3 separate regions of the Homo sapiens genome follow, and regions 1 and 3 are each linked to region 2. The links come from fine-mapping of genetic effects on gene expression. A gene starts in region 2. Each other region holds a variant in brackets. All regions are shown on one strand. Distances are between the middles of the regions.

Region 1 (8,248 bases), 120 kb before region 2:
AGGTGATATCTATCCACTAATAAGAATGTAAATATAAACAAGTTTTATCTCACATGTGCCACCATCTCTCCTTTACTATAGTCTGTTAAGAGTTGACAGGCCCACCTATGGTCCCCAGAATCTCAACATTAAACAAATATAAATCCCAAAAGGCATTACTACCTTAGAACCAGAAATTCTTAGTTATCATCTTGTGCCACACGGCCATTACTTGATCAGCAACTTTAACTTAACCCCTCATCCCACATAAGACATTGCTAATTTTTTTTTGGTACATTAGGCAGTTAGCTAAAACCTGATATTCAAATAAATGCTGATGTTACTTCAAGTTTAAAAACTGCTGAACTAAAAAGGTCAACAATTATCTATATGCAGCATTGCAAAGATTCCTTTAAGTAGCACAAAAAGAAAACTGCAATATAAAAAACATCTTTATAGATTTGACAAATGCAACCATTTAAAAGAAATGTCACTCAGCATAAACAGTGGTCTACAAATCTAAGCTCTTCAAAAAGGTTACCTGTAAGTTCTAAAATGGCCTTCTATAAAGTGCAACATTTTCCATTAAATCGTTAAATTCTACAAGGGTTTTTCAAATAGAGGGATGAAGAAAAGTATCAGAAGGTGACAGTTTATAAGCACAAAACACAAATTCTATAAACTCACCTGGATTATACTATAATAAAAATATTATTATTCACATCCAGATTTGAAGTTTGCATTAAATTATCAAACCTGATGAGAAAAAACTTAAAAACAAACCACCATTATTGTGTTACCATATATAATCTGCAAATCAAAAAAAGACTCACAAAACCCAAGTTTAATTATCTTGTTTGCCCTAAAGGAAATTAAGAACTGTAATGTTAACCTTGTTCTGAATGTATTCCAGACTCAAGTCTCCCTACAGTAGGAAGTTCATTGCGGTCTATGCTACTGAAATGTAATTAGGGGGGCATTATGGTTCTAGAGAAAAAGCATCAGTTTGGGAGGCAAATGTGCTCCTTGCTACATGGATGACTTGGAAGCCTGTCATTTAACTGTTCTGATTCAGTTTCTTCCTCATCTATTGTGCTGAGGACAATATCACCTAACCCGCAGCACAGATGTGAAAATTAACTTTTCTAACCTAAAGTGCAATTCAACTAACACTGTGGTAATGACATACTCAACCAAAGTCAAATTATTATTTTTGGATTATCTATCTCACTGGTCCCTAGCAATATCTGACAAAGTTGAGAACGCTGGAATACACAAAGTAAAACCCAACCTCACCACTAAAACAAAAATACAGTTTAAGGCCCAAGATGTCTAATTACAAATTAACAGGTCTTAAAAAACTAAGACCCACTGAACCAAACAAATCTTATCTAACTAAAATACTCATGAGGCCAGGTGCAATGGTGCACACCTGTAGTTCCGGCTACTTGGAAGGCAGGAGAACTGATGAGGCCAGGAGCTTGAGACCAGCCTGACAACATAGCAAGACCTTGCCTCTATAAAAATAAAAATTTAAAAAAAAAATCTCATGGGTCAAGAGTTCTAAGCTCAGTAGCTAATAACTATACATTGGGCCATTCCTACGGATGAAAATTTTCATTTTAAAATCTGAAAATGTTCAATGTGATGAGCTCCTACTGCTGCCACCTATAGAAAATGTTGCCCTAACTTATAATGATTTTCCAGCAGTGGAAACGTATACATCTCTAAGCTCTCAGGTTTACTCTACATGCAATAATGTACATAATTGTACAAGGATTCTCAACAGTTCTGATCATGATGCTAATCCTATTTCTTAGGTCCAATACTATCATTCAAAACCTCACAATCATCCCAACTCTGATGACAGAAAGCACTGGGGAAGCTTTCTATTTTCTGAGATTGTGCAGTAATTCCCTGCAACAAATTACAAGCAGCATCAGTATGTATTGCTACCACCTCTCCACATTTACACCAACATACACAACACACACATACATTTGGTACAAATAATAAAAAGTGAAATTACTAATTCCTTAGAGTAGATGTTACTGCAATTCTTGAAACAGATTTCCATTTCCTAGTTTGTTATTTATCTGAGGCTGAGTTTCAAAAGAATGAGTCTTCATTCCAGTTTTCCTAATCCCACAGCTCCACCCACCCACAGGAATAGGGACTATCAGTGTTCTCAATGGGGTTGCTTCATTTTTACACAACATTTGGTATCCTTAGACCCCACCCAATAAATGCCAGATGCATGTCTCTCCAACAACCCTTCCAAATTTCACACATTTCCAAATGTCCTCTAGTATGTGATAACACCAAGCTGAGGATTGCTGCATCTAGTTAATGCCCTTAAGTCTCCAAGTAGGAAGAACTTCTGTTTTGAAATGTATAATTTAGTATTCACTCATGAAGGATAATTTCTAGGCTATCCATAATTTATGACCTTGAAGTTACCACAAAGTAATTTTTTTTTCCAAAGTGACTCAGACTAAACTTTTCTTTCCACCCACCACATGCTTAATATAAGCTACAAAAGTATAAGTTGTATTTCTTCCTATTATCAGTGATCTGGGCCAAAAGTGGTTACCAAAGTTACTTTAACCCTACAAAAAAGCCATGTGATTCAGTTACATTAAGTTTATGTAAAGGAGATGCTGCCAATTTTCAAATATTTGAGGAACTGGAACCAAACTGGTAATACCAACTTCACTGTGGTCTTAACCATCACAGCAAACCTAGAGTTTCTCAGTAATGCAAACCAAATATTCCTATGCTATCCTCAAACGACAGTCCTAAAGATGAATACTGTTAAGAAAATAAATACGCTGAATTTTACAACCTGGTTGCCCTTCAATTAGTAATGACAATCACACAAAAGTTTGTTTCACACGTGTAAACAAAACCTTCACCCATCTCACACACAGCACTCAACAAATAACACATATGTGAAACGAGTATTAGTCTATATTGCCAGATTAAATTTTCTTCCAGAAATATTTTAATAAAAATTGGCCATTTCCAAGTAACACCCACTGCATGCCCATCAATAAAAGAGAACCATAACAAAATAGAAAATTTACCATATGGCTATGATTTTAAGAAAAAAAAAAATGCGGACACGAGCACATGAGCAAAGTCCAATATTAAAGTAACATTCCTTCTTACGGGCTATGATTAGGAATCTGATTAGATACCAGAATAAAAATACAAATGCTGAACTATTTAGGTCAAAGAACCTCTATAGAAGCATCTGTCTTCAAAGGCATTCCAGTTTGAGACTCAATTTTAGAATAAGGCATAACAAATATGTTAACAAAAGACATACACAAAGTGATGAAAGAGGGATTCTATAATTCCCCACATACTCTGAACCTAATAAAACAAATCTAGATTTTTTTTTTAAACAATTGCCAAGACTGAAATCAAAGATAAATAGAAGGCACAACAGTTTTGCTCTGGTTGTTATCTGGGTTTTGGGAATTTTTTTGCTTTTTGTTTTTTTACAAATACAAATTAAACATGAAAAAACTACTTCAAAAAAACTAACAGTTCAAGAAAAGCCTATCAGTTGCATTCTAGACATTTAAAACCTATTATCACAATTTAAATTTCAATGGTAAAAACAGTTAGGTTTTAGAATTGTTTTGTGATCCTTTATCAAAAAAAAATTCTATTCCTTTTATTCAGTTTTTAAACATACCAGTGAGAATCAAAATTGTCAAATTTTCCAATGGCAATTTCTCCACACCAGAAGGTAGTCATGACTCTCAAAGAAGAAACAATTTGGGTTTTTCCTGCCTTCAAAATATTATCAAATCCTGTATTTCTTACAGGCTTTTCAAACACGTAGAAAATAAGAAATATTCCAATGAATGAAACATACCAAATGTCAGTAATATGCAAGACATTCCTTTGGGGAAATGGCTGTAAAAAAAAAAAAAAAA[T/AT]CCAGTCTGTATATGCAAAGTAAGCAAGGAAATTCAGTCTTTTTTTTTGCTTCTTTAAAAGTCCGTTATTCCTAAAATATCATTCCACAAAATTGGAAGTGAAAGACTAAAGGTCAGGAAAGGGAAGAGAGGGAGAGGGAGCACACACCATTAACACACAAAAAAAGTAAAATTATACAAACTTAAGCAGTTTATAACAGACTGGGGTCATACTCCAAGATACCAAAGGCTGTCGAAAATTCACCATTCTGTTGGAACCAGGGTTTGTATGGCTGCATGAAGATCCATGAAGATTCACTGCCGTGGCGCAAGCCCCCTTCCCACTCCAAATCCTGGTTTCTGCACCATGCCTCCACGGGGAGGGCCTCTCATTCCACCACCCAGCCCACCTCGAGGGCCTCCAGGTCCCCGAAGGCGATTATCTCGTCGGTCGCCTTCCCTGGCAGCTCGAGTCTTCTTCTCTTCGACATTCAGACGGACCTCACCTCTGAACATGATGGGCTGTAAGAATCAAGGTGACCAGACTTAAGAGTACTGATGAGCTGGCTATCACTATCAAAGATAAAGAAAGCTGTAATAATGAACCAGCAGAGGCTGGGCACGGTGACTCATGCCTGTAATCCCAGCACTTTGGGAGGCCGAGACGGGTGGATTACGAGGTCAGGAGTTCAAGACCAGCCTGACCAACATGGTGAAACCCCGTCTCTACTAAAAAAACACAAAAATTAGCCAGACATGGTGACACACGCCTGTAGTTCCAGCTATTCAAGGAGGCTGAGGCAGGAGAATTGCTTGAACCCAGGAGGCGGAGGTTGCAGTGAGCCAAGATCACGCCATTGTACTCCAGTCTGGGAAAAAGAGCGAGACTCCGACTCAGAAAAAAAAAAGAACCAGCAGATTATAAATCAGCTAAGTTCTCACAGTTCAGTTTTTTGTTTGTTTTTTTAATGAGACAGAGTTTCACTCGTCACCCAGACTGGAGTGCAACTTGAACCCGGGTGGCGGAAGTTGTGGTGAGCCAAGGTCGTGCCACTGCACTCCAGCATGGGCGACAGAGTGAGACTCCGTCCCAATAAAAAATAAAAAATAAAAAAAATTGCCACCTTCTCCATAGATTTGGAGGCTTAGAATAAAACCTCATCATCACCAGTGTGAAAAGATGGTACTGTACATATTTATGCAAAGTACATATACATTTAAAATAAAAACTTCATTAATTTGACATAAACTTTAATTTGCTCTTTAACACCTCCTGAGAATTTTGGATAGTCTTGGCCTTCGTTTCCTCCTAACAGAGCCAAAGTAGTTAAGGGGCTACGAAACATTTCAATATATTCAATTTATGCTCTTCACCAGCAATGTAATTTTCTAATTTCTTAAAATGAGTATCTAAGAGTACTTACTATGTGTCGCGGAAGTGTTCTATTCAAATTTATTTATTTATTTATTTTTTGAGATGGAGTCTCGCTCTGCTGCCCAGGCTGGAGTGCAGTGGCGCGATCTCGGCTCACTGCAAGCTCCGCCTCCCAGATTCACGCCATTCTCCTGCCTCAGTCTCCCGAGTAGCTGGGACTACAGGCGTCCGCCACCACACCCAGCTAATTTTTTGTATTTTTAGTAGAGACGGGGTTTCACCGTGTTAGCCAGGATGGTCTCAATCTCCTGACCTCGTGATCCGCCCGCCTCGGCCTCCCAAAGTGCTGGGATTACAGGCGTGAGCCACTGTGCCCAGCTCTATTCAAATTTATTAGCTCACTTAACCTTTACAACAACCCTCTGATGGTAGATACCTACTTTAAGGACTAGCAAACTAAGGGCCGGGGAGGTTAAGTAACTTGTCCCATGGGTCACAACACTAATGAGTGATGAAAGGAGAATACAAACCAAGGCCTCCAGGGAAAAATAAGCTTTGAAACGGTAAGCTACACTACAGTATGTCATACACCACGGCAATCAGTCTTACATAAGCTATTTCTGCTCACACAAAAAATTAGTGAAGGGAGCATAGTAGACTTCTATCAATACCATGAAATGAAGGGTGGCCACTAGGCCTAATACATGCTGAATGATGGATTTATCTACAAAGCCTACTGGACATTTCTGGGTTCTTCAGTGGCTTTGGTGAGATAAACCACTGTTCTCTCATTTCTCAAACAGTATTTTGCAGGAGATGCTTCACAAAAATAAATGGTCAAATAATTTGAAAGATAATGTATATTTGCATACTCAGGTTGACATGTTATAACCACAACATTAAACTATGCAGTAAGGCCAGGTGCATTGGCTCGCACCTATAATCCCAGCACTTTGGGAGGCCAAGGTCAGCGGATCACCTGAGGTCAGGAGTTCGAGATCAGCCTGGTTAACATGGGGAAGCCCCATGTCTACTAAAAATACAAAAAAATCAGCTGGGCATGGTGGCGGGTGCCTGTAATCCCAGCTACTCAGGAAGTTGAGGCAGGAGAACTGCTTGAACCCAGGATGTGGAGGTTGCAGTGAGCCAAGATCACACCATTGCACTCCAGCCTGGGTGGCAGAGAGAGACACTGTCTCAAAAAAAAAAAAATAAAAAAATAAAAAACTTTGCAGTATGCCCATTAACATTCTGGAGAATATCACTGATCTGCAGTATTTTTATTATATGGTTTAAAGTACACAATTTTAATTCATAGGGACAGAAAGCAGATTAGTGGCTGCCAGGGGTTGGGAGACAGGTACAAGGAATGACTGCTTAGTGAGTAAAGAGCTTATGGCTTTTAGTAAAAAACTTTTGGAATTAAAGGTAATGGTTGCACAATAATGTGTTCTAAATGCAATTAAGTTGTACATTTTTAAATGGTTAATTTTGTTATGTAAATTTCACCTCAATAAAAAAGTATAGCTTAGTAAATTAATATTATTTATACACTTGTTCTTCTCTACTACTACAAAAAGTAGTTTTTTGCTAGAGGAAGGGAAGCTTTCTTTGGGGATCCCACAGTAAGATTTCCATTCTACAAATTCTTCTATTATTAGAACGTACAGAGTAAGAGTACTGTTAGTAAGGATGGTTCCAAGTAGGTTGACTATATAATTTATCTTCCAAATCCAATTTATTAACTTAAAGAAGAAGCTCTTAATAGTTATTCTCTAAAAACAGCAGTATACCAAAACTGTCCTGGGCAAACTGGCTCTTATCTTAGTTAATAGTTAGAAGTAGGTTTGTATTTCATCTCCTGTATACCAAAAGCCACCACCAAGGAAAGGTAGTTACGTAAATCTCAGTGCACTGATAACTATTCATTTTCTCATTCTCATAATTCATGTTTTCAAAAACTAAGTTACTTAAACATAAGGTTTGTTTTCCTAAACCCCCAGGCAAGTCTTTTAATAATGGTTGAAAATAATGAATAAATTACCTGAACATGTTGGAATAAACTGCACTTTACATAAAGACCCAGCTGTAAAGATATATTCTAAAGAACCAAAACCCTTTTTAAAAAAAAAAAAAAAAAATCAAGACAAAAAGCTGCTTACCCTGTTGCTAAGGACTTTCTGAACAGGCTCAGAATCATCAAACACAACAAAACCAAAATTGGGTAATTTCCCACCACTGTTAATGCGCAACTCCACCACGTTTCCATAACCTGCAAGTGAAACACATTCTCAGATAACTACTTAGACCATTATCTTTAAACATTACATGTACACAGTCCAATACAGTAGCCACTAGATGCATGTGACTACTGAGCACTTGAATTATAAATATAGCTAGTCTGAATTGAGATGTGCCTCTCATAAGTGTAAAATTATGGGAGGCACATTTGGATTTCAAAGATTATGAAAAAGTGTAAAATATCTCTCACAATATTCTTACATGTTGAAATGACAATGCCTTAAGTTAAATGTTATTAAAATTATCCAGTTTCTTTTTACCTTTTTTTTTTTAACCATGACTACTAGAAAATTTATAATTACATATGTGGCTCATTTTCTATTGCTACTGGACAGTGCTAGAGAGACACTAGATGAATTTAGTGTTCAAAACTCAATAACCTACTTTGAAAGAAATCTTTAAGCTCTGATTTGTCCACTTCATGAGGCAGGTTGCCAATGAAGAGTTGGTGACTGTCAGGGTGTCTCACCATTCTTCGGGGTTCAATGTCACCTTGCTCACCAGCCTCACGGACTTAAAAGGAGACAAAAACATCAATGAAAGACAAGAGAAAGAAGACATCTTTCAATGACTGCTCACATTCAATAGTTTTCCCTCTACACTAAAAACAGGTAATTCCATCAACCCTACAATATTTTTATTTTAAAGTATATAAATATCAACT
Region 2 (8,280 bases):
AGTGGCCCTCAGGAGGGATCTCTCTTCCAGAGCTTCAGCCCAGCCCCAACCAGACTTCCACTTCCTGAACTGAAAGCCACATGGGAACACCAGCCAAAAACTGGGAAGAGTTCCACTGGTTCATCCTCATCAGAATCATCATTTTAGTTTATGAATAAAAATACAAAGCTTCTGCTAATTTTAGTCCCATAATGCCTGGGAGCTATAGCAACCAATCCTATAAAAATATACATCTGTCCGGATGGCAAAACAGATATGTGGAGAGTCCACCAGCACCCTGTATTCAGCAGCCAAAAGCACTTGGCTTTTGAACCAGGGTGAGAGGCCTTGGGGGGTCTTTATTTATTTATTTAGAGACGGAGTCTTGCTCTGTCTCCAAGGCTAGAGTGCAATGGTGCCATCTCGGCTCACTGCAACCTCCGCCTCTTGGGTTCAAGCGATTCTCCTGCCTCAGCCTCCCATGTAGCTGGGATTACAGGCACGTGCCATGATGCCCAACTAATTTCTTTTGTATTTCTAGTAGAGACAGGGTTTTGCCATGTTGGCCAGCCTGGTGTCGAACTCCTGACCGCAGGTGATCTACCTGCCTCAGCCTCCCAAAGGGCTGGAATTACAGGAGTGAGCCACCATGCCTGGCCTTATTATTATTATTATTATTTTATTATTATTACAGACAGCATCTTGCTCTGTCACCGAGGCTAGTCTCAGGCTTCTGGCCTTAAGCAATCCTCCTGCTTCAGCCTCAGAGTAGCTGGGACTCCAGGAACATACTACTGCACCCGGCCCTTGGGGGTCATTTGGAGAAGACTCCTTCTTGGGTGTTTGTGGATTTTTCTGCAGAGAAAGTTCATTGCTTCCTTTAGGTTCTCAAAAGGACCAAACACCCTAACTTTTATATTCCACTTTAGTGGTTTGAGGGTCTCTTGGGTGTGGGGCAGTGTTCCAGGCTGGAACCCTAGTAAAAGACAACCCTCTCTTTTTTCAGATGGGCAAGTCGGAAGTTCATATATTTATTGAATAAAATATTGCAAGCCAGCTTTGTGTGGGGCACTGGTCAACATGCTGGGAACAAAGCAGTAAACAGACATGTGAAGTCCCTGCTCTCACCAAGCTTCTGTCTAGTTGGGGAAACAAATGGTTTCTGAGAATGACAGGTGATGGGGAGGAAATAAAACAGTGTAAGGCGATGAACTGTGCCTGTGAGAGAGGCAAGTAGATTGAGTGGCCCTAAGGAGGTGACATTAGAATAGGCACAGGAAAATCAGGTGGAAGAGTGTCTCTGGCAGAGGTAAGAGCAAATGCAAAGATACTGGGCATGGTGGCTCAGACTTGTAATCCCAACACTTAGAGAGGCCAAGGCGGGCGGATCACTTGTGGTCAGGAGTTCGAGACCAGTCTGGCCAACATGGTGAAACCCTGTCTCTACTAAAAATACAAAAATTAGCCTGGTGTGGTGGTGCATGCCTGTAATCCCAGCTTCTTGAGAGGCTGAGGCAGCAGAATCACTTGAACCCAGGAGGTGGAGGTTGCAGTGAGTTGAGATTGCGCCACAGCCCTCCAGCCTGGGCAACAAAGTGAGAGTCTGTCTCAAAAAAAAAAAAAAAATCCTGGGGTGGGAGAAGCTTTGGGGTAGTTGAAGGACTGGAAGGAAGTTGGCATGGCTGGAGCAGCGTGGGCACAGAGGACAGTGGTAGGAGGAGAGAATGGCAAGAGAGACAGGGGCCACAGCGGATGGAAGTGTATCATGAGGGTGTTCTCTGCCTTCTTCCTTTCCATGGTATTCAAACCCAACCCATGCTTCCAGGTCCACCTCTTTCAGGAATCCACCAATCTGAAGCCCTGGGATAAGCCTTAGAGTCTGTACCACTCATGTAAGTGGGTGTATGTGTAAGGCACAACCTTTCAGCAAGATCCAAAGCTCCTTGAATAGTGAGTTATCTCGATTGATTGTTCACAGTCACAGATTGAATTCCTTGTACTTTTTTTCCCTTCTCAGTTCTGCACTTAACTCGTCTAAAAAAATTAAAAAAGAATTTAAGAAACCACAAAGCTAAGCTGGGTGCGGTGGCTCACGCCTGTAATCCTAGCACTTTGGGAAGCCAAGGCATTCGGATTGCCCAAGCTCAGGAGTTCGAGACCAGCCTGGGCAACATGTTGAAACCCCATTTCTACTAAAAATACAATAAATTAGCTGGGTGTTGTGGCATGTGCGCCTGTAATCCCAGCTACTCTGGAGGCTGAGGCGCGATAATTGCTTGAACCCGGGAGGCAGAGGTTGCAGTGAGCCGAAATCATACCACTGCACTCCAGCCTGGGCGACAGAGTGAGTGAGACTCTGTCTCAAAACAAAACAAAACAAACAAACAAAAAAACCGGAAACCACAAAACTTTTTGAGGACAAGGACCAGGTATTTATTAATTCTCATACCTCCCAGAGTGTTAGGCACAAAATAAACATTCAACCAAGACCTGTTGCACTGAGCAGTTCATATATAACAGGAGTGACCCAAGTTGAAACGTAGAATCAGCCCTCTCATACCACTTTTTGCCAGGTGATCATAGGCAAGTTACTTAGCATCTATGTTTCCTTATTATTAAAATGGTCATAATTACAATGCCTAAGATAAGGGGTTGCTGTGAAGATTATTAAATCCTCAGTAAACTTTGGCTATTGTTACTCCTATGATTATCATCAATATCATCAATTACCTTATCTGTTCAATACTGGTGGCACAGGTCCACCAGCTAGATGTCTAATCCCTTATGTGTCTATTAGTGGTACAAGTGGAGTTTGAGTGGGATTTTTTTTTTTAAGACCAGTTCCAAATCATCAAGGATGATACCACTAGTAGCAGCTTGTCTTGTCTGTACAGTGGTAAGTCCTGGCCTTGCCTTTGTGGCAAATACAACCCCCTTGAATTGCTTGGCCCTTCTCAGCATTGCCTAATATTAGGGAGGACTCCTGTAAAGCTCACTGGTTAGAAGATCAAGACACTTGGGCCTGGTTCTGCCCCTGGGGGCCATTGGGTAATTCCTTGCAGTCTCCAGGCCTCACTTGCCCTCTGAACAAGAAAGAGGCTGTTCTGGGTCATCCCTCCAGGCCTGTCCAGCCCTGGCACTCTGTGAGTCGGTTTAGGCAGCAGCCCCGGAACAGATGAGGCAGGCAGGGTTGGGACGTTTGGTCAGGACAGCCCACCGCAAAAAGAGGAGGAAAGAAATGAAAGACAGAGACAGCTTTGGCTATGGGAGAAGGAGGAGGCCGGGGGAAGGAGGAGACAGGAGGAGGAGGGACCACGGGGTGGAGGGGAGATAGACCCAGCCCAGAGCTCTGAGTGGTTTCCTGTTGCCTGTCTCTAAACCCCTCCACATTCCCGCGGTCCTTCAGACTGCCCGGAGAGCGCGCTCTGCCTGCCGCCTGCCTGCCTGCCACTGAGGTATGTGTGACCCCCGCCCAGCCTTTCCCTTCTATAGTTGCACCAACCCCGACACCCCCGTTCACGCCGTCAGCTCGTGTGCAAGGGAGGGAAGCTCTGCTGAGGATGCGCCTCTCCTCCCGGCTCCATCACGGCTCCCCTTAAGAGCATGGCCCTCGGTCCTGTCTGCCTGTTGCTTTTCAGAAGGTGGACTCACTGTGTAACTTTGTCTTCCCTTACAGGTTTACAGAAAATAATCTCACTATGTCTTCGGGGGAGCATTTTCTCACTCTCTGTTTTTCTCTGTGTCTGTCTCTGGTTTCAGAGGCTGCCTGCCTGTCCTCTTTGCTCCCTTTGCAAATGTGGCAGCCTCCTCCTTTCCTGGGAATCTGATCCCATCACAGCTGCCACAGGGACCTGGCCAGCAACCGGAGTCTGTCCTCCAGATCTCGGTCAGGGGTTCTGTTTTCCAAAAGGGACTTTGCACGAACAATCAGTTGATCTCTGAAAGGCAAAGGGGGAGGCTTCACCATTAATCCACACCTCTGGGAAGCCTTCTGTTTTCCTCTAATTCTCCTCACTCCCAAACACCACCTTCCGTCCCCCCAATACACAAATTTCAGCACCATTCTGCCTGAAATGGCACCATCACAACCTCAGTCTTGGGTTAGGTGTTGTTCCTGTCCTGAGTTCCTTGGGATGGTAAACACAGGCAGTAGCCCTTAGTTTATCTAGATCTGAAAACCCAGACATCAGATATCGTCAACCAAGACATGGGTGTAATGGGAGGTGGAGTGTGCTGGGGGAGATATTCTCAGAAGGGGGAAAGGGGGAAGGGAAGAGGGAGAGAATTCCAGGGTCCCCTTCCGTAATCCACCCAAGACTAGTGTCCAGCCTGTCAGGGTGTCAGTTCTTCTTCAGACAAATCCACTACCTTTCTTCGCCGCCACTGGCTCCGTGAACTGGCTGTCAAGTGGACTTCCTTAGGGAAAGGGACTCCAAGGACTCCAAGGGAAGGGGGGCACTGGGATGAGTTATGTCTTCCAGGATTCCCAGTCTGCCCAAAAGGGAACAGAGAGGCATGCATTTTCCTCAGGAAAGGACAGCATTTTTTTCATTAGAGAAAATGTTTTCTCTAGTAATGCTTTAGAGTTAAATTTCTATACGCCCCAAGTGCTGGTGGTTTAGTGAGAAGCAAAGCAGAAGTAGGACACAGGCTTCGGGCATGCATTTTATGTGTGATCTTAGGTAAGTGTCTCCCCTGGATTTAGTGCCCCATCTGTAATGAAAGAAGGCTGAAACTGAAGGCTCTTTGGGGTGCTTTGTGTCCTCTAAAATATTCAAAGGAAGATTTCTTAACCAGGGTCTATGGAGTGGTCTTTGAATGGGCCTCAAGCCATCTCTAAGCCCCTAAAAATTGTATGCACTGTGTGTGTGTGTGTGTGTGTGTGTGTGTGTGTGTGAGAGAGAGAGGGAGAGAGAGAGAGAGAGAGGATGAATATGGGTGGTCACAGCTTTCAGCTTTAAGATATTCTCAAATGGATTAGAGGGCATGACGTGGGGATGGAGTGAGGACTGGTAACAAATGTGTGTATTTGCTGGAGGATGAAGCCTTCTGAAAAGGGAGTGGTTGAGGAAAGAGAGAGTTAACTCTCAGCTATCAGCTGCCACATCGACATAGCCTAGAGCAAAGAGGGGGAGGGAGGAGAAGAAGGGGGTTGCCTGGAGAAGGAATCAACTTTTGAAACTTTCTCCAAGTCCCACCCACCAGAAGGCTCTTCTCTGCCTGACTCACTCTCCGAGGAATGCGAGTTGCCACGGTAACCTTTTTTTCAGGGTCTCTGCCTGCTGGCTGGAGGGGACCCTTGAAACCCTCTAAGAACATCAGTCTGAACGTACCCCACCCCCAAATTCAAGGCCTGCAGCAAATTCTAGGCCCTGCCCTTGTGATCTCTCAGGATTCCGGGGAAGCCTTGGGCCATGATAATCTCCTTGCAAGGGTGTTTGAAGACCTGGGTTTTAGCTCTGGCTGTGCCCTGAAGGTACCATTTGACCTTGAACTAATACTTCTTTCTGGGCCCCATTCCCTCTACAGTTAAAGAACAGTAACAGCAGCCACCTCTAGGGGGTAGATAGTGTGTAGAAGAAATGGGATAATGCACAGGGAAGCACTTTGCGAATTGTGGCATTCCCTCATAATGCAAAGGGTTTTAGAACTGATGGATTAAAGGCATCCAAAGACCTAGTGAAATCATTCTCAGCTTTTTTTTTTTTTTTTTTTCCTGGCAGCTCCATCATCTTGGGGTTTGTATAGAACTTTCCTTTACTAGAAGTACTGACAGGAAAAATTTTAAAATCATAATATTGTTTATCTTCATTTTGATTTGGGGAACTTCTTGTGTATTTCCCAAGACTGTTGTGCCCTCTATGTAGGAAAAGCATTGGCCAAGGGTGAAAAAAAAAAAAAAAAGTGTGTTCTAACTCCCAGTGCCTGACATTGGGAAAGACACTTCCTCTCTTGAGGCTGCAGTTTCCCAAACTGTTAAATAGAGTTTCTAAGCTAGATGATTTCCCAGGCACCCTTCTAACTCTGAAGTCCTATAAACCTAAATCCCAGATACCGCTTTTATTCAAAGGAATAGCTTGCCTGCATTTTTAACACCGCCTTACTGCACCCCCAGTTGAAAAGAAAACAAGAAAAGATGGGCTAGGGGATCTTGAGTTGCATAACCATCATGCTGTAATCCTTATCCATCTGTAGAGATTTGTCAATCAACAGTGTGGCTGGGGTTTGCTATTCATGAGAGCAGCTTTCCTTGCTGAAAACAAGCTATAAATAAGAAAGAATGGTGAAGGAAAGGAAAGAGCTGAGGATGTGAGGTAAACAGTAGAATATTTGGCTTTTGAAGTTGTTTATGTAGGTAGATAAATATGCAGAGATAAACAGGGACAGGTACAAACCCATAGGGATGAAGAGTATAAACATCGATTTCATCAACAGGCACCCACTGGCTCAGCTAAAAATAAGTGCCTCATTACAGGAGCAGACACAGAAAGTCATTCACTCACACACCTCTTCCTGGATGACAATGATTTACAGACAAGTTCCAGGAATATATCTCAATGAATGTGAAAATTCTGACCCTCGCCTATTACAGGCTGAAACAGACAGATGCTAAGTCAGGCTGTATGTAACTTACACAGACATGCCATCAGGTATACAAACACACACCGCCACTTGCAGCCACACATGGATGGATGTGCACAGTCAAACATATGCACAGTCAAACATAATATGGATCATGACAATGAGACAGACGTGTAACCTACATTTATCACCAACCACCTCTATGTCTCAGAGAGAGAGAAACTGAGGCTCAGGAAGAGAAAATAACTCACTGGAGGTCACATAGCAAGCTGGCGTCTGAGCCAAACTTCCACGTGTTTGGAGCCATTTTGATATTCACCTTGCCTTCCCCCCCAATCCCCATTTGTTCAGTTTGGAAACACACTTATGCACACAAGCCCCATGGATACTAAGTGGTGAGCAGCACTTTGTCTCTCCCGTTGGCTGGCCTGCAATGCCTATTCCAGCCCACGTGGCTTTGTCATTAGGCCCAAAGGCCCTGCATGATGTGCCTGTAGGCGGCTGCTCCCTTGCTTCTAGCTGGCTCCCTCCCAAACGTCAGTTTCAAAGGAGAGAAGGGAAAACCAGCCTTGAGCTTTCAGCAACCCTGAGGACCTTGTTTCTACAGCACAGACCCTGATGCCTCCCTCCCTCCCTCCCTCCCTCCCAACCTCAATCCTGAACCCAGGGACAGCTGGGCTGTGCAGGGCCAGGGCCAGCAAGTAGTGACTTGACGGAATTATTTAGAGAAACAGCCTCTCCTCAACTGGCAGCTTAGACAGGAAATCATCTCTGCTCTCACCCATCAAGCTATAGAACTTTATGTCTGCAAGGAAAACATGAACATAGACAACAATTGTTGTCAGAGCTGGTTTCTTTCAGAAACTTGGTATTAACTTCTCTCATCTGGGGATCACTCTGGGTCATCTTGATGTTAGTCATGGCATTAGGATTTCAGACCTATCAGATAAAAAAAGCAAAGCAAACATCTGGATGTTTTTGAACATCTGGAAATTTGGCTTAGACACCAGCTTGCCGTGTGACCTCCAGTGAGGTATTTTCCTTCTCTAAGCCTCAATTTCTCTACCTCTACAATAAGAGGCAGCACACAGAGGTTTCATGTGGCCTGACAACATCACTAATTCATCGGTAGTGGCTGTCAGAAGAACTGTGTTCAGGATTCTGATGACTCTCTAAGCTTTAGGAGAAGAGGTCAAGCGATTGATTAGTAATGTCTGCCACATGTGCAGGAGGGGTAGGTGGAGGCCACGTGTTTGTCACATATGCCACATATTTGCTATCTTTGGGATCTCGGAGGCTTTTCCAGATGCAATAGCCTGGACACTTTGATGTTATTTCTCATCCTTTCATTTGTGGTCACCACAATGCAGCAGCGGTGCCCTAGAGGGAGCCAAGGATGAAGCCTGAAGCTCCACCCCAGCCTCTGCTAGCCACAGTGAAATGTGGCATCTCAGATGTCTTTATGGAATCTCGGGCTGATTCCAGCCCCAAACTCTGGAGCCACCTCTGAGTTGCCCCAGAAGCTCTCCAGTCCTAAGTTTTAGCTACCACACCTTAAAAGTTTCCTTTAGCGTCTTTCCTTCCAGCAGGAAATAGAAGTGGAAGCAGGGAGTCAAGGGGCAAGTGGAGAGAGGTAAGGCTCTAAAAAGCTTCTGCCCAAGTTGATCCGGAAAATCAGAGCTGAAAAGAACCTAAAGGACCACCTTGCCTAAGGGTTCC
Region 3 (8,000 bases), 150 kb before region 2:
AACCTCCAACTCCTGGGTTCAAGCAATTCTCCTGCCTCAGCCTCCCAAGTAGCTGGGATTACAGGCACACGCCACCACGCTCAGCTAATTTTTGTATTTTTAGTAGAGATGGGGTTTCTCCATGTTGGCCAGACTGGTCTCAAACTCCTGACCTCAGATGATCCACCCGTCTTGGCCTCCCAAAGTGCTGGGATTACAGGCATGAGCCACCATGAATGGCCTCTATTTCTTTCTGGGTCAGTGTCTTTTTAGGAATTTGTCCACCTCATTTAGGTTATCAAATTTATTGGCATACAGTTGTTCAAAGTATTCCCTTATAATCCTTTTTATTTCTGTAAAGTCAATGATAATGCCTCCTCTTTCACTCTTTTAGTAATCTGATTCTTCCCTCATTTTTTCTTGAACAGTATAGTTAGAAGTTATTCAATTTTGCTAATTTTTTCAAAGAATCAACATTTGGTTTCATTGATTTTCTCTATTATTTTTCTACTGTTCTACTTATTACCATTCCAATCTTTATTATTTTCTTCCTTCTGCTTGCTTTGACTTTAGTTTGCCCTCCTAGTTTCTTAAAGTGCAAAGTTATTGATTTAGGACCTTTCTTCTTTTTAAAATAGGTGTTTACAGTTATACACTTCCCTCTAAAAATGATTTTAGCTGCATCTCATTAGTTGTAGTATGTTGTGTTTTCAATTCTCCTCAGAGTATTCCTTAATATATCTTTTATTTATTCTTTGATGCATTGTTTAATTTATTGTTGTGAGTTTTCCAACTTTCTTTTGGTTATTGATTTTTAATATTCCATTGAAATCAGAAAACATATTTTGTATGATTTCAACTATTTTAAGTTTGAGACTTGTTTTATGCATAATAGTATGGTTTATTCTGAAAATACTCCATGGTGCACTTCAGAAGAATGTACATTCTTCTGTTACTGTGTGGAGTGTTCTATAGGTGTTCTTTAGGTCTAGTTGGTTTACAGTGTCAATTAAGTTTTTCATTTCCTTGGCAATCTTCTAATTATTCTATTCATTATAAAAAGCAGGGTTTTGAAGACACCAAGTATTATTGTTGAATTATCTATTTATTGCTTCAATTCAGGCAGTTTTGCTTCATATATTTTGGGGCTCTGTTGTTAGATGCATAGATGTTTATAATTGTTATATTTCTTGATGGATTGACTCATTTATTATCAAATGCTCTTCATCTCTTATTAACAATTTTTTTTTCTTAAAGACTGGTTTGTTTGTGGGTTTTTTTTTTTTCTGATGTTGGTATAATCACCTAAAGGCCTCTTTTGGTTACTGTTTACATGGTATGTTTTTTCCATTCTTCTACTTTTATCCTAGTTGTGTCTTTGAATCTAAAGTGTATCTTTTATAGACAGTATGTAGTTGCATTTTATTTTTTAATCCAGTCTGACAATCTCTAACTTTCAATTAGTTTGTTTAGTCTATTTCCACTTAATTTAATTAATGTAATAAAAAATGCGATTTCGTATAATTTACATCTGCCATTGTGTTGTTTTCTATATATATCTTATCTTTTTTGTGTCTTTGTTCCTCCGTTACTGCCTTTTTGCATTAAATATGTATTTTTGTGAGTGCAGTTGCTCATGCCTGTAATTCCAGCACTTTGGGAGGCTGAGGCAGGTAGGTTGCTTGAGCTCAGTAGTCCAAGACCAGCCTGAGCAACATGGTGAAATCCCATCTTTACAAAAAATACTTTTAAAAAATTAGCTGGATGGAATGGCATACAGCTGTAGTCCTAGCTACTTGGGAGGCTGAGGTGGGAGGACTGCTTGAACCTTGGAGATTGAGGCTGCAGTGAGCCATGCTGGCAACACTGCACTCCAGCCTGGGTGACAAAGCAAGACACTATCAAAAAAAAAAAAAACAGTATTTTCTAGCGTGTCATCTTAATTCCCTGGTCATTTCTTTTACTATTTTTTTCCAGTTATTTTTTTCATGATTGCCCTGAGGATTACAATTTCATCTTATTTTAGAAACATCTAATTCAGATTATTAATACTAACTTAATTACAACAGTGTCTTAGTTTACTTGGACTGCTAAAAGAAATGCCACAGATTTGGTGGTTTAAACAATAAAAATTTATTTTTCATAGTTCTGAAACCTGGGAAGTCCAAAATCAAGGTGGCAGCTAATTCAGTTGCTGGTGAAGGTTCTTTTTCAGGTTTGCAGATGACCACTTTCTTGCTTTGTCCTAACATGGTAGAGAAAGAGTTCTGGTATCTCTTCTTCCCTAAATCCTATTGAATTAAGGCCCCACCTGTAAGATCTCACCCTAAAGATCTCACCTCTAAGATCTAACCCTAACCCTAACCCTAAGTCTAACCTAATCACTTCCTCATAGGCCCTGTCTCCAAATACAGTCATAATGGGGGTAAGGACTTCAACATACAAATGCTAGGGGCACACAAATATTCAGTTCATAACAAACAGTACGCAAAAAACTTTGCTCCTATATATATCTCAATTACCTCCCCCTTCCTTTGCACTATTATCATACAAATTACATCTTCATTATATGTTGATTAACACAGGTTTACAATCATTGATTTACTCAACTGTCCTTTAAATCAGATAGGAGAAAAAAGTTATAAACAAAAACTGCATTTTTTATATTGTCTTGAATATTTACCTATGCAGTTACCTTTACTAATACTCCTTATTTCTTCGTATGAATTTGAGTTACTGTCTAGCATCCTTTTATTTCAGCCTAAAGGGCGTCCTTTAGTATTTCTTGTAGGACAGATCTGCTAGCGGAAGTCTCTCAGCTTTTGTTTACCTAAAAATGTATTTTTCATTTTTAAGGGATACAGAATTCTTGAGAAAAATTGGCAGTCTTTTCCTTTCAGCACTTTGAAAATGTTATCCCACTATCTTCTGTACCCGATGGTGTTAATGAGAATACAACTGTTAATCTTATCAAGAATCCCTTGTACAAAAGGAGTTGCTTCTCTTTTGCTGTTTTAAGATTCTGCCTTTGCAGGAGAATTTCTTGAACCTGGGAGGTGGAGGTTGCAGTAGCAGAGATCTAGCCACTGCACTCTAGCCTGGGCAACAGAGCGAGACTCCATCTGAAAAAAAAAGATTCTGACTTTGTCTTCTGACATTTTGATTAGGATGTGTCTAGGTGTGGATCTCTTTATCTTACTTGGATTTCCCTGTGCTTCTTAGATGTATAGATTACTATTTTTAATCAAATTTGATAAGTTTTCAGGCACTATTTTTTTAAATATTCTTTCTGTCTCCACTGCAAATTCCTATTAAACATTATGTTGGTGCATTACATGGTTTCCCACAGGTTTCTGGGGCTGTTTATTTTTCTTCATTCTGTTCCTCAGACCATATAATCTAAAATTCACTGATTCTTCTTTAAGTTTCCTGATTCTTCTGTCTTCTTAAATCTACTGTTGATTCCATCTAGTGAAGTTTTCATTTCA[G/C]TTATTTTACTTTTCAACTCCAGAATTTCTATTTGGTTCTTCTTTATCATTTCTTTTTTTGAGAAGGACTCTCACTCTGTTGCCCAGGCTAGAGTGCGGTGATACGATCTCGGCTCACTACAATCTCTGCCTCCTGTGTTCAAGCAATTCTCCAATCTTAGCCTCCCGAGTAGCTGGGATTACAGGCATGCACCACCACACCTGGCTAATTTTTTCTATTTTTAGTAGAGACGAGGTTTCACCATGTTGGCCAGGCTGGTCTCAAACTCCTGACCTGAGGTGATCTACCTGCCTCAGCCTCCCAAAGTGCTGGGATTACAGGCTATCATTTCTCTTTATTAATATGCTATATTTGGTGAGACACTGCTCTCATATTTTCCTTTAGTTGTTTAGACATAGTTTCCTCTAGTTTGTTGAACATACTTAAAATAACTGATTTAAAGTCTTTGTCTATTAAGTCCAGCATCTGGGCTTCCTCAGGGACAGCTTCTTTTGACTACTTTTCTCCCTATGTATGAGCCATACTTTCCTCTTTCTTTGCATGTCTTAGAATTTTTGTTAAAAATGGACATTTTATTTAAGTTCTGGGATACATGTGCAGAACATGCAGGTTTGTTACATAGGTATACACACGTCATGGTGGTTTGCTGCACCCATCAACCCATCATCTACGTTAGGTATTTCTCCTAATGCTATCCCTCCCCTAGCCCCCTACCACCCAATAGGCCCTGGTGTGTGATGTTCCCTGCCCTGTGTCCATGTATTCTCATTGTTGAACTCCCATTTATGAGTGAGAACATGCAGTATTTGGTTTTCTGTTCTTGTGTTAGTTTGCCGAGAATAATGGTTTCCAGCTTCATCCATGTCCCCACAAAGGACATGAACTCATCCTTTTTATGGCTGCATAGTATTCCATAGTGTATATGTGACACATTTTCTTTATCAGTCTATCATTGGTGGCCATTTGGGTTGGTTCCAAGGCTTTGCTATTGTGAACAGTGCTGCAATAAACATACGTGTGCATGTGTCTTTATAGTAGAATGATTTATAATCCTTTGGGTATATACCCAGTATTGGGATTGCTGGGTCAAATTATATTTCTAGTTCTAGATCCTTCAGGAATTGCCACACTGTCTTCCACAATGGTTGAACTAATTTACATTCTCACCAACAGTGTAAAAGCATTCCTATTTCTCCACATCCTCTCCAGCATCTGTTATTTCCTAACTTTTTAATGATGGCCATTCTAACTGGCATGACATGGTATCTCATTGTGGTTTTTATTTGCATTGCTCTAATGACCAGTGGTGATGAGCTTGTTTTCATATGTTTGTTGACTGCATAAATGTCTTCTTTTGAGAAGTGTCTGTTCATATCCTTTGCCCACTTTTTGATGGGGTTGTTTTTCTTATAAATTTGTTTAAGTTCTTTATAGATTCTGAATATTAGCCCTTTGTCAGATGGATAGATTGCAAAAATTTTCTCCCATTCCGTAGGTTGCCTGTTCACTCTGATGATAGTTTTTTGGTTTTTTGTTGTTGTTGTTGTTGTTTGCTGTGCAGAAGCTCTTTAGTTTAATTAGATCCCATTTGTCAATTTTGGCTTTTGTTGCCATTGCTTTTGGTGTTTTAGTCATGAAGGCTTTGTTTGGGCCTATGTCCTGAATGGTATTGCCTAGGTTTTCTTCTAGGGATTTTATGGTTTTAGGTCTTACATTTAAGTCCTCAATCCATCTTAATTTTTGTATAAGGTGTAAGGAAGGGGTGCAGTTTCAGTTTTCTGCTTAAGGCTAGACAGTTTTCCCAACACCATTTATTGAATAGGGAATCCTTTCCCCATTGCTTGTTTTTGTCAAGATCAGATGGTTATAGTTATGTGGCGTTATTTCTGAGGCCTCTGTTCTGTTCCGTTGGTCTATATATCAGTTTTGGTACCAGCATCATGCTGTTTTGGTTACTGCAGCCTTGTAGTATAGCTTGAAGTTGGGTAGTGTGATGCCTCCAGCTTTGTTCTCTTGGCTTAGGATTGTCTTGGTTATGTGGGCTCTTTTTTGGTTACATATGAAATTTGAAGTAGTTTTTTCTAATTCTGTGAAGAAAGTCAATGGTAGCTTGATGGTGATAGCAATGAATCTATAAATTACTTTGGGAAGTATGGCCATTTTCACAATATTAATTCTTCCTATCCATGAGCATGGAATGTTCTTCCATTTGTTTGTGTCCTCTCTTATTTCCTTGAGCAGTGGTTTGTAGTTCTCCTTGAAGAGGTCCTTCACATCCCTTGTAAGCTGTATTCCTAGGTATTCTATTCTCTTTGCAGCAGTTGTGAATGGGAGTTCACTCATTATTTGGGTCTCTGTCTATTATTGGTGTATAGGAATACTTGTGATTTTTGCACATTGATTTTGTATCCTGAGACTTTGCTAAAGTTGCTTATCAACTTAAAGAGATTTTGGGCTGAGACAATGGGGTTTTCTAAATATACAATCATGTCATCTGCAAACAGATATAATTTGACTTCCTCTCTTCCTATTTAAATACCTTTTATTTCTTTCTCTTGCCTGACTGCCCTGGCCAGCACTTCCAATACTATGTTGAATAGGAGTGGTGAGAGAGGGAATCCTTGTCTTGTGCTGGCTTTCAAAGGGAATGCTTCCAGCTTTTGCTCATTCTATATGATACTGGCTGCAGGTTTGTCATAAATAGCTCTTATTATTTTGAGATACATTCCATCAATACCCAGTTTATTGAGAGTTTTTAGCATGAAGGGGTGTGGAATTTTATCAAAGGCCTTTTCTGCATCTATTGAGATAATCATGGGTTTTTGGCATTGGTTCTGTCTTTATGATGGATTATGTCTATTGATTTGCATATATTGAACCAGCCTTGCATCCCAGGGATGAAGCTGAATTGATGGTCATGGATAAGCTTTTTGATGTGCTGCTGGATTCAGTTTGCCAGTAATTTATTGAGGATTTTCTAATCGATGTTCATCAAGGATATTGGTCTGAAATTCTCTTTTTTTGTTGTGTCTCTGCCAGGTTTTGGTATCAGGATGATGTTGGCCTCATAAAATGAGTTTTGGTATCAGGATGATGCTGGCCTCATAAAATGAGTTAGGGAGGAGTCCCTCTTTTTCTATTGTTTGGAATAGTTTCAGAATGAATGGTACCAGCTCCTCTTTGTACCTCTTGTAGAATTTGGCTGTGAATCCTTCTGGTCCTGGGCTTTTTTTGGTTGGTAGGTTATTAATTACTGTGTCAATTTCAGACTTGTTATTGACCTTTTCCGGGATTCAACTTCTTCCTGGGTTAGTCTTGGGAGGGTGTATGTGTCCAGGAATTTATCCATTTCTCCTAGATTTTCTAGTTTATTTGCATAGAGGTGTTTACAATATTCTCTGATGGTAGTTTGTATTTCTGTGGGATCAGTGGTGATATCCCCTTTATCATTTTTATCGTGTCTATTTCATTCTTCTCTTTTTTTTTTTTTTTTTTTTTTTGAGATGTTGTCTCGCTCTGTCGCCCAGGCTGGAGTGCAGTGGCGCAATCTTGGCTCACTGCAAGCTCCACTTCTCGGGTTCACGCTATTCTCCTGCCTCAGCCTCCCAAGTAGCTGGGACTACAGGCGCCTGCCACCACGCCCGGCTAATTTTTTGTATTTTTTAGTAGAGACGGGGTTTCATCGTGTTAGCCAGGATGGTCTTGATCTCTTGACCTCATGATCCACCCACCTTGGCCTCCCAAAGTGCTGGGATTACAGGCATGAGCCACCACGCCCAGCCTCTTTTCTTTATTAGGCTGGCTAGCAGTCTATATATTTTATTAATCTTCAACAAACCAGCCCTGGATTCACTGATTTTTTGAAGGGTTTTTCATGTTTCTATCTCCTTCAGTTCTGCTCTGATTTTAGTTATTTCTTGTCTTCTGCTAGCTTTTGAATTTGTTTGCTCTTGCTTTTCTAGTTCTTTTAATTCTGATGTTAGGGTGTCAATTTTAGATCTTTCCTGCTTTCTCCTGTGGGCATTTAGTGCTATAAATTTTCCTCTAAACACTGCTTTAGATGTGTCCCAGAGATTCTGGTATGTTGTGTCTTTGTTATCATTGGTTTCAAAGAAATTATTCATTTCTGCCTTAATTTCGTTATTTACCCAGTAGTTATTCAGGAGCAGGTTGTTTAGTTTCCGTGGAGTTTTGTGGTTTTGAGTGAGTTTCTTAATCCTGAGTTTCAATTTGATTGTGCTGTGGTCTGAGAGACTGTTTGTTATGATTTCCATTCTTTTGCATTTGCTGAGGAATGTTTTACTTCCAATTATGTGGTCAATTTTAGAATAAGTGTGATGTGTTGCTGAGAAGAAGGTATATTTTGTTGATTTTGGGTGGAGAGTTCTGTAATTTCTATTAGGTCCGCTTGGTCCAGAGCTGAGTTCACATCCTGAATATCCTCGTTAATTTTTTGTCTCGTTGATCTAATATTATTTTCAGTGGGGTGTTAAAGTCTCCCACTATTATTGTGTGAGAGTCTAAGTCTCTTT

Evidence for each region.
Region 1: its variant is fine-mapped to the expression of SPARC in whole blood (INTERVAL, PIP above 0.99).
Region 3: its variant is fine-mapped to the expression of SPARC in whole blood (INTERVAL, PIP above 0.99).

What each region holds. Positions count from the first base shown.
Region 1 is chr5:151,800,067-151,808,314 of GRCh38, reverse strand. G3BP1 (G3BP stress granule assembly factor 1) reads right to left here. Exons shown (of 12, transcript NM_005754.3): 10 at 7,969-8,097; 11 at 7,446-7,555; 12 at 1-4,430. The coding sequence ends at 4,224. Among named protein-coding and RNA genes, the nearest start is that of G3BP1, 32 kb to the right of the region's middle. The variant T/AT (reference allele first, on the strand shown) is at 3,930.
Region 2 is chr5:151,682,019-151,690,298 of GRCh38, reverse strand. It overlaps SPARC (secreted protein acidic and cysteine rich), which reads left to right and starts at 3,384. Exons shown (of 10, transcript NM_003118.4): 1 at 3,384-3,434. It overlaps CLMAT3 (colorectal liver metastasis associated transcript 3), which reads right to left. Exons shown (of 5, transcript NR_109873.1): 4 at 4,348-4,470; 5 at 2,389-3,917. RefSeq lists enhancers at 2,616-3,443, 3,444-4,273, 5,102-5,931.
Region 3 is chr5:151,833,996-151,841,995 of GRCh38, reverse strand. The region is part of intron 7 of GLRA1 (glycine receptor alpha 1); the gene reads left to right. Among named protein-coding and RNA genes, the nearest start is that of G3BP1, 66 kb to the right of the region's middle. The variant G/C (reference allele first, on the strand shown) is at 3,468.